Linked DNA regions of Homo sapiens: region 1 is linked to region 2. The links come from fine-mapping of genetic effects on gene expression. A gene starts in region 2. The other region holds a variant in brackets. All regions are shown on one strand. Distances are from middle to middle. Region 1 overlaps CD99L2 (CD99 molecule like 2). Region 2 holds the start of CD99L2 (CD99 molecule like 2).

The links. PIP is the estimated chance that this variant, and not a neighbour inherited with it, causes the effect. A credible set is the group of variants that fine-mapping cannot tell apart.
Region 1: its variant is the best candidate, but not a certain one, in a credible set for the expression of CD99L2 in lung (TOPMed, PIP 0.66).

Annotation. Positions count from the first base shown.
Region 1 is chrX:150,851,524-150,856,901 of GRCh38, forward strand. All of the region lies in intron 1 of CD99L2 (CD99 molecule like 2), which reads right to left. Among named protein-coding and RNA genes, the nearest start is that of CD99L2, 44 kb to the right of the region's middle. The variant A/T (reference allele first, on the strand shown) is at 2,165.
Region 2 is chrX:150,896,262-150,901,639 of GRCh38, forward strand. CD99L2 (CD99 molecule like 2) reads right to left here and starts at 2,407. Exons shown (of 11, transcript NM_031462.4): 1 at 2,261-2,407. The coding sequence starts at 2,327. RefSeq lists a silencer at 2,082-2,691.

The sequences.
Region 1 (5,378 bases), 45 kb before region 2:
CTATGATGAGACAGCTGTATTTTCTATTGGTGCTATAACAAATTCCCACATAGTGGCTCAAAACAGGACAATTTTATGACCTTGCAGTTCCAGAGATCAGAAGTCTAAAATGGGTGGCCCTGGGTTAAAACCGGGGCACCAGCAGGCTGTGTTCCTTCTGAAGCTTCCAATCCATTTCCTTGCCTTTGCCAGCTTCTGGAGGTCACCTGCATTCCTTACTTAGCTCATGGCTCTTTCTCCATTTTCAAAGTATATCACTCCAAACCCTGCTTCTATAATCACATCTACCTCCCTCTTTGACATATCAGGCCCCCTTTGATCACATTGGGCCCACTTGGATAATCCAGGACAATTTCCCATCTTAAGATCCATAACTTAGCCCTATTTGAAAGTCCCGTTTGCCATGTAACGTCACATATTCACAGGTCCCAGAGATTAGGATGTGGACCTCTGAGCAGGGAGGGAACATTAGTCTACTGACCACAACAGCCAATAACCATCATCTGTTTTACTGTTTCAAGCATTTAAATTGTTCACTACTGCTTGGATGAAAGAACTCTTCTCCACATCATTACTCCAGAGTGAAAATCCACTTTATGCTGGGTAGTTAAGGAAGGTGTGCCAGGGTGGTGAACTTACACTAAAAGGGGCCAACTCTGGAGTTGCAGAAGTGCATTTGGCCAAAACAACATTTTTAGAAGTTCGCTCTGTTGTGTGGAGACTTGTTTGTAGGAGGCCAGTTGGGGAGCTGTGGTTGTTTTCCAAACCTGTAAGGACAATGGCTGAGCACAGGATGACAGCTCCCCATCACACCCTGGACCTCTGGACTTCACTTGGTTGCTAAACTTCAGCAGGCTCTATCCCACCTCAGGGCCCTCAGGGGTCCCTCTGCCCGGAAGACTCCTCCCATCTCTTCCCTTCACTAAATTCTGCTTGGGCACCTCAGACTCCTTTTTGAACAGCTTTGTTGAAAGTGTGAAATTCAGTGATTTCTAGTATATTCACAATGTTGTGTAACCATCACCTATCATTTTCCACATTTCCATCACCCCAAAGGGAAAACCCGGACTCATTAAACAGTCCATCCTCCTCATCATCCCTCCCCCAGCCCCCAGCAACCACTAATCTCCTTTCTGTCTCTATAGATTTGCCTGCTCTGGTCACCTCAGATGAATGGAATCATCCAGTACATGCTCTTTCATGACTGGCTTCTTTCACTCAGCATGTCTTCAAGCTTCATCCATGTTGGAGCATAGATCCGAATTTCCTTCCTTCTTATGGCTGAAAAAAGTCCACTGAATGAGTAGACTATATTTTGTTCATCCATTCATCAGTTGATGGTCATTTGGGGTTTTCTTTCACTTTTTGCTATAATTATAAGTAGTGCTCTGTGAACATGTACAGCCGGGTTTTCAGTTTTCTTGGGTCTATATGTAGGAGTGGAATGACTACTTTGACAGTAAAATACAATAAGCAATCACCACGGAAGTTTCTGAAATCCATTCATGCTGCACGATCCTGCTGCTTATCACTGACCCCTCTTGACTCCCAGTCCTCAGGGAGGTATACAGGGGACTACTACCCCACCATTCACAGCCACTTTAGGCCGTGTCACCCAGACTTGCACCTTCAGACAGACACAAGAACACACGTAAGTGCACCTAGACATACTCCAGCAAGTGAAATGATACGTGTATAGGATGAAGCCAAGAAATGGAAAAGTTTTACCCACACATATTTGGAAATTATTTAGGAAGAAGAGCTCTGAACACTGTAACCTGCTCTGACATCCATGCTGTGTGGTGGTGGGGCAGCAAAGAGCACACATGCTAAAATCAGATCATCTGGGTGACAGTCCTGCCTCAAACCCCCCACCCACCCACTTCACTGCTGGGCACCTCAGTTTCCTTGCCTGTAAAATGAAGATGATAAAACAGTCCCTGCTGCATCGGGCTCTTGTGAGGACTCAGTGAGCTGGCACAGGTAAAGCATAGTGTTCGATAAGCGTGCACAGTCCTCCCCTTCCCCTAGGAGCTTCCAGCAGTCAAGGCCAGTCAGTTCTCCTAGTTTACAGCTCTGCCAAAATAGACCTAGCAAGAAGGGGTCTTCTCAAGGTCACTCAGCTGGTTGGCACAGGTCTGCGACTATAATCTCTTTAATGATA[A/T]AAAAGCACAACGAAACTCCCTTGGGAAGACGAACTTCAGAAGTGATAAGCCTTTTCTACAGCACAAGCAGCAATGCAAGCCCCATTTAGCTGAAACAATCCAGTGCACCATGTTCAAACCATTCAAGAGTAATAACAAATCTGTGTTCAGTCCCCCATTTGGCAATCACTGCTATTACCATGAAGGTCCAATCCCAGAGACATACCTGAGAAGGATATGCCTGAGAGATGTTCCAGTATGATATGACAAAAAAGGAGGAGAAAAATCCAAGTAGCAGAGAATGGCTAATGAGCTATGAAGTTACAGTCAGATAGGCAAGATGTACCTCCTTTGGGAGCCCTTCTCTGATGTGTCCCCTCCACACCATCAAAACACCAGGTGTAATATCATCAGCTTGGCTCTTGCAACCCCCACATAACAGGAGCCCATGGGGCAGTGAGGAGACCAGTCCTCTTTCTTGTCCTAGTCCTGAGCCCAGAGCCTGGGCCCAGAGAATGCATACTTCAACTTTCGCTCTACTCGTAAAACAAGCGGCCCACCAAGTGCTTTTCCCAATAGCAAGCCACTCTTGAAATAATTTAATCTGAAATTATCCTGTCTGTTTTACCTGCCTACTCTGTCTGCCTCCACTTTGGGTCATTTAATTATTGCTACCCATAACAAGATGCAAAACTGCTTAGGAATTCCCTGGGTGCTGGTTGGCTGGGGACTTGTTGGCAGCTAACCCACAAAGTCTTTCCTTAGCATAGGCAAAGAATGATGCCTTATACTTTTTGTTATGGGCTGAATTGTGCCCCCTCCCAATTCATACATTGAAATCCTAACTCCTATTAATTTAGAATATGACCATATTTGGAGAGAGGGTCTTAACAGAGGTAATCAAGTTAAAATGAAGTCATTAGGGTGGGCTCTAATTCGTTATGACTGCTATCTTGGGCATTTGAACACAGACGCACACAGAGAGAGAAGACAATGTGAAGAGACACAGAGAGAAGATGGATACTGATAAGCTCAGAAGAGCGGCCTGGAACAGATTCTGTCTCACAACCCTCAGAAGGAACCAACCCTGCCAACACCTTGACCTCAGATTTCCAGCCTCCAGAATCATGAGATTATACATACCTGCTGCAGAGGCCCCCGATTATGTGGCATTTCATGACAGTAGCTCTAGGAAACTAACATAGCCTTCATGGCTCCCTGTGGCTGCCTGCTGCCCCCCCTCCCCCCGGTGGTTCACTGCAGCTGGTACAATAAGGGAGGAAAGGGGACCCATGGAAACAGACAGATGGCCTAAAGAAGACATCTGCCTCTCTGCCAGGAACCTGAGCAATCGTGAGGAAGTGACTTTGCTGCTCTGTGCTCTCCATATGTAAGATGGAAGTAACACCTGCTGCCATGCACAATCACTACTGACTGGTGCATGACTGGTTATTGCTGTGGTTTGTACTGTGTCTCCCAGAAGGAAATGTTCAAATCTGAACACCTGGTACCTGTGAATGTGACTTTATTTGGAAATAGGGTCACTACAGATGTAATGAGTTAAGGTGAGGTCATACTGGAGTGGAGTGGGTCCCATATCCAGTGTGGCTGGTTGTATTAGTCCATTCTTGCCTTGCTATAAAGAACTACCTGAGACTACATAATTTATGAAGAAAAGAGGTTAAATTGATTCACAGTTCCATAGGCTATGCAGGAAGCATGGCTGGGGAGGCCTCAGGAAACTTACAGTCATGGTGGTAGGTAAAGGGGAAGCAGGCACATCTTCACATGGTGGAGCAGGAGAGAGACTGTGAGGGGGGAAGTGCCACACACTTTTAAACCATGAGATCTCGTGATAACTCACTCACTATCATGAGAACAATGAGGGGGAAATCCGTCCCCATGATCAAATCACCTCTTACCAGGTCCCTCCTCCAATGCTGAGGATCACAATGAGACATGAGATTTGACTGAGGACACAAATCCAAACCATATCACTGGTGTCCTTATAAGAAGAGCAAAAGATAGAGGCACACAAGGGAGAACTCCATGTGAACATGGAGGCAGAGATTGAAGTGATGTAGCTGCAGGCCAAGGAACACCAAGGATCGCTACCAGCAGCTAACGGGGGCAAGAAAGGACCCTCCCATACAGCTATCAGAGGGATTGTGCCCTGCTAACACCTTGATCTCTGAATTCTAGGCTCCAGAACTGTGGGAGAATGCATCTTTGTTGTTTTGAATCACATCATTTGTGGTACATTGTAATGGCAGCCCCAGGAAACTCATACAGTCACTTAAATCCAAATTCATGGGCCTGGCACACAAGTCCCTCCCCAGTCTGGCCCTGACCTGCCACTTTTAAATTCTTCCCTATCATTCCCCACTGCACACATTCTGTATGCCCTGGCTGTGGTGATTCCCTGAAGGACAAACCTTGCCCACACTTTGGCATCTGCCATTTCCTGGGTCTGAAGCGTCCTTCTTTGTATTTTATGCCCAAGGATAGTTATTGCCTAAATTGAACATCATATCCTCTAGGAAGCCTCAGCCCACCCCACCAGACAGAGGACAATTTCCTCCTGTGTATCACACCACATTCCTGTGGTGGTTCTTGGCAAACAGAATATTCTAACTTCCATTCATGGCTAACTTCTCTACAGAACGGAGGTCTGAGAGGCTTGAGGCCACAGCACCTAAGGCAAGGCCAGGTGTACCACATGCCGACTGGGCACTCAGCATGCTTGTTACATGAAGTCACCTGGCCCAGCATTTTTCAGTAACACCAAAATGTTCCAGAGGAGGCTTTCCTCATCTGAGAGGAAAAGAAATGAATGATGGACATACAAAATGACATGAATGAATCTCAGAATAATTATGCTGAGTGACAGAAGCCAGGCTAAAATAATAATAATAATAATAATAATAATAATAAAGACTACACGCTGTGTGATCCCATTTCTATAAAACTCTAGAAAACAAACTATAGTGAGAGAAAACAGATCAGACATCAATGTAAAGACACAGAAAACATGAAAATGCAAGGAAGTATGACACGCCAAAGGAATACCATAATTCTCCAAAAAGAAACCCCAATAAAAAAGAAATTCATGAAATCCCAGAAAAAGAATTCAAATCATTGATTCTAAAGAAGTTCAGTGAGATACAAAAGAATTCCAAAAATCAAAACAAAGAAATCAGTAAGACAATTCAGGATATAAATGAGAAATTTACC
Region 2 (5,378 bases):
GTGGCGCATGCCTGTAGTCCCAGCTACTTGGGAGCCTGAGGCAGGAGAATTGCTTGAACCCAGGAGGCGAAGGTTGCGGTGAGCCGAGATCAGGCCACTGCACTCCAGCCTGAGCAACAGAGCTAGACTCCGTCTCAAAAAAATTAATTAATTAATTAAAAATAATTTAAACAATAAAAGATAACTGGGTAGCAGTCTTATCTGGGTTGAATCCTGGCTCTATGTCTTCTGAGCTATATGACCAGGGCCCCCTCATCTGAAAGCCAGTGATAATATCTAGCCTGCAAAATTGTCGAGGCAATTTAAAGCAATATATGTGAAGTGCCTGGCACACAGGAAGAACTCAGGAGATGGTAGCTGGTAGCAAGGCTGTAGATCTAAGCCTGGTCCCCTCAAAACACCTTTGTGATTGTCAGGCATCATATGGATGATCAAACAAGTTCGGGGAACTCATTTTCCCATGGTCCCTAAGTAGTCGAAGTGGGGTACCTCCAGGTGCAAGGGCATATGCCTAGGGCTTAAAGGCAGTGACTGCGCAGTCAGACAAGCCTTGCATCAAATCATAATTCTGGCAATCGCTGTGTGACCTAAGGCAAGTTACTTCACCTCTCTGTGCCTCTGTTTCCTCATCTATAAAACAGATGTACTGTTTCTGTCTCCTCTACCACCTCTTAAATCAACAATTGTAACGTGCAAATCTGAGACCCAATCATTTCTATTCCCCACCTTCTCAACGGGCACACCATGTTGAAGACTTTCAGAAGACAGCTTTGAAGGGAGTATCATTTTTCTAACTTTTTTTGTGCTTCTACTTTCAAGATTTCCATGTCATTAGATGCAAGTCAATCAAATGATCATACATTTTCCTACAAATGCATTGTAAACAAAATAAAAATTTTATCCCAAAGGGAAAATGAAAAAGAAAATTCAACAACTCTTTACCCCTGTAACTTCCTTTATTTTTCTCCATAGCACTGACAATATATATAGATTTCAATGTTGGGCTTGTTTTCTGCCCGGACCAGGATGTAAGCTCCATGAAGACAGTCTCAATTTTGTTCACTACCGCATCATCAGTTCCTAGAACAGAGCCTGGCACCTCTGCAGAATGTTAAATGGCTCTTCGTGAATCAACTCCAGGTGGGTTGCCCACATGAAAAACATTTCTGCATCTTTTGCAAAAGTGGCTTGGCTAGTACCATCCACTGTTTTCCAGTGTTCCTTTATGTGACATAAATCTTACTAGAACTCAGTACTAGGACAAAGTGTGTGTGTGTGTGTGTGTGTGTGTGTGTTTCCTGAGCTCACATATTTTCCACCAGCTGGGTTCGCTTCTATTGTCAGGAAGCTTGGAGCATAATTCACGTTCAATTACAGTGTTTCCCTTAATCCCTTTTTCTGATGGGGACATAGGATATAAATAAGTGTAAGAAGATTCTGTTGGTACATGTTTAAGACCCTATTTTTAACCACAGACTGCATTTATTCTACTAAGATGCTTCTCAAACTTGAATGTGCCAGAGAATCACCCGCGGATCTAGTTGAAATGCAGAATCAGACTCAGTAGGTCGGGGGCGGGGCGTGAGATGCTGCAGTTCTTACAAGCTCCCAGGTGATGCCTATGCGGCTGGGCCCTGGACCACATTTTGAGTAGCAGAGGGTCTAAGAAACGTGCTTCCTTGATTCAGCGGGATTTCTCTCTCCTGCTCCTTGGCAAAACATGACCAAAGTCTCAAAAACTGAAGCGGACGGCAGAAGCACCTAGAGAGCTGGTTAGACCTACGCCTCGCTGACCCCCCCCCCCCCCCCCCACAGCCCATGCCCGCTGTGATCCCGATGAAAGGGGCTAGGAATCCACCTAGGAAGTTCCCCAGGTGCTTCTGCTGTCGGTGGCCTCGCAGCAAATTTCGAAAATGACTGCTCTCTTCAAGGTTTTCTCAAAGGTAAACTCTTGGGGACAGCTGTTGTCACCAGTGGTACACCTGCTCGTTCAGGATTTTAGGGGGCCCATCCCGCTGTTTCCAGCCCAGCGTCAGGAGGGGACCCACCCCTCCTCTCCGGCTACTCCGACCGCGGCGGAGTCAACCCCCACGGGCCCGGGGCTCGGACCCCCGCCGCTCCGCCTCGCACAGCCGGGCCGGCCGGTGGCAGCCACCGCAGGCCCGAGAGGCGGGGACCGTGCCGCTCATGCGCAGAGCGACCCCTGGGCCCACAAGGCGGGGTCCCCGCGCGGTCCCCGCGCGCCCCCCGCCCGCCTTACCTCGCTGGACCAGGGTGGCCAAGGAGAAAGCGAGGCAGACAAGGAACGCCGAGCGCCAGGCCACCATGGCTGGGAGCAGGCGGAGGGCCCCGGAGGAGCACAGTTAGCGCGAGAGCGCCCGAAGGGGAGGCCGAGGAGGAGCGGGAGGAGGAGCCCCGCCGCCTCTGCAGGGTCCCGCCCAAAGCCCGCGCGCGCGCGCGGCGCGGCCCCGGGAAGATGGAGGTCGGGCGCGCTAGAGAGCCGGCGCCTGAGGGCGCCTGGGCTGGGGTTAGGCCGGGGGGCGGGGCGAGGCTGCAGTATCGGGGGCGGGGCCGCGTTCTGGAGGCGGGGCTCCGGGCGAGGGGCGTGGCCTGCGGGCACCCGGTGGGTGGGGAGGCCTGGGTTGGGTTGGGCTGGGTCCAGCGGCAGCGCGCGGTCCGCAGACCCTGTCCCACCTCGGTCCTCGAGACCGAAGTCTCGGAGGTGGCCCCGCGGACCTGGAGCAGTGAGTCACCAGTGCCGGGGAGCGGGAGGCGGCAGCGCCGGTGGGCGCCGATTTCCTCCCGGGTGACCTTGAGAAGGGCTCTTCCCCTTCTGGCCTTGGTGTTCTCCCGGTGAAGGGTTGTTCCCTTGGGGCCCCTCCAGACACCGTCCAGCACGGAGCCCCGCACTCTGTCCCCACCCGCTGTTCCCTGCAGGAGTGAAACCCTGGCCGGAGACTGAAGAAAAGGACCGTTTTCGTGACTGGCTGCGGTCAACAAGCAGTGACACGTCTCGAGAAAACGAGGCCGGGGGCGCCCGGGTGGGCGACAGGGGAGGATGGGGGCGTCCCGGAGCCGAAGCGCCGCGGGCTCGGGAGACTGGGGGTAGGGACTGGGTCAGCTCTCCCGAGGCTTTGATGAATGCGCTGAAAGTGCAAGTTCATATCTGCAGAGTCGATCTCAAAAACGTGCTTAATGACCGACAAACGCGCTGCAGTCCTTTCCCATGAACCCCCGCAAACGGAGTCCGTCTCCCAGACCCGAAGAAATCAGATTCCGATACGATACTGTGCCGACCAGCAAAATGCCCGCTGCAGCAGTTGATGGGAACGCTCCCTAGAAGAGCCCCAGCTGCAACCGGCTCTCGAAGACAAAGAGGAAGCGCTACTGCTCTCCGGAGTGGTAGCGTGAGCCTGTCCCTGCCATTATGCGGCACCGGCTGCCCAGGGCCACATCCTCCTTAGAGGGCGGCTACTACCACCTCCCCTCAATATCCATTCGGCAGCTTTCCTGTGCCCCCAACCCAGCCCTCGCTGCCATAGGCACCCCCCTCAGTGGCTCCCACCAACCCCTAAGGAACAGTGGGGTGTGGGGTCTCCCTGAGATGGAGCCGAAATCTCCCGTGTGGCTTACATCCATTGCCCTGAATCTTAGGGCTGCAGAAACAAAACAGCATATGAGGAGTGGATCTTCCCAGGCTCAGGGCATTAATTACTCTATGAATGGAACATTATTCCATTCTAGCTGTAGAATTAACAGAAATAGCTGGTAGTTATTGAACACACACTATACACATGGCATATTCCAGGCATTTTACCCTTAATTTTTATTCCTCACAATGCCTTATGTATCATCACCTATTAACGAGGGAAAAGCAGCAAAATGGAGGTTCCTTGAGGTTGGGGAGTTAGCCAGGTCTAGTCTCATGTGTCAAAGGGGGAGGGTACCACTAGGAACCCCAGCTGGTGAATGGCTAAGAATGTGTGCTGTAGAGCCAGACCGGGTACAAATCCTGGCTAAACCCAACAAGGTTGTGCTAAGGATTAAATGAGGTGGTGAAAAGTGGACAGCCTGCACACAGTGACAGAGGGCAGGGACCATTACTGGTTAATCTAGTAACGGCTAAGGAAATAGTGGCCACTGTGAGGTCAGGAGGTTACTGTCTATTCCAGGCTGTGGACATGCCCCCACCTTTGCTACTAAGTGCCCTGAGCCATTCCATAGGCCCTGGTGGTACCATCTGTACCTGGAGGGCAGTAGATTTTCTGGTCTTTAGGAGTCTTCCAGGATCTGATGGGTAAACCCTGATGCATACACACTCATCTACACTGAGGAGGTGAGAAGCATGTAACCTCTTAAGTTTGAGGCCATGTCAATCAATATGCAGTGGACAGTCACACTCAACTGGAACTCTAGCTGCTAAAGGTGCTACAATGCCATATGCAATAAGACTGTCTTCTAGCTCAAGAATAGTTCTCAAACTACACCCCGTGGGCTAAATCCTACTCCCACCTGTTTGTTCAGCCTTCCAGCTAAAAGTAGTGGTTGCATTTTTAAATGGTTGAAAAAAATCAAAAGAATGTTATGACATGAGAAAGTGATACAACATTCAAATTTCAGGGTTCATGAAGTTTATGAGAACACAGCCACGCCCATTGATTTTTGTATTCCCTATGGTGGCTTTTGTGCTGCCACAGTGGAGTTGAACAGTTGTGATAGAGACCATGGGGCACACAAAGCCTAAAATATTTACTGTCTAACCCTTACAGAAAAAGTTTACTGACCTCCGTTCTAGCAGATTGAACCATGGCAAGGATGAACATTAGCAGGTGATGATATGGGACCTTAAGAGTGTGCTCCTCTAAAGCGCAAAATGAACATAGATGACCTGCTCTGACACAGGAATAAGAACCAAAAGAAAAGGACAATGTTTATCATTGTGGCCAAAAGATACTCACAAATAGTTCCTTAATCAAAATATTGCAAATGTCCGAGATGGATTATCCTACCAGATACCTCTCCCTTTGTAAAATAGCTTATCTTGGGCCTGGTTTGTCTCTCAGTCTCTTGTAAGTTAGGTTAATGTGAGTTAGAGAGGGCTGATTTGCCTGCCAGACTGAAGACCTGCTGGGAACTTAGTGAGCCTCTCAGTCAGGTACTGCTATCCTGCTGAATTGCAATTAAACATGCAGTTGATTTACATACAGGAAATTGTACACTTAAAAACTATGATCTGGGAGCACCTCCCCAACTTAGTTTGGAAGTGTATTTCCCAGGAGAAAAAAAATTATTATTAAAAAAATTTTTTCAAAGCCATTATCTGTGCTCCCCGCCCCCACACATCATCTATACTCCCCACTGCCAATGCACATGGGTTC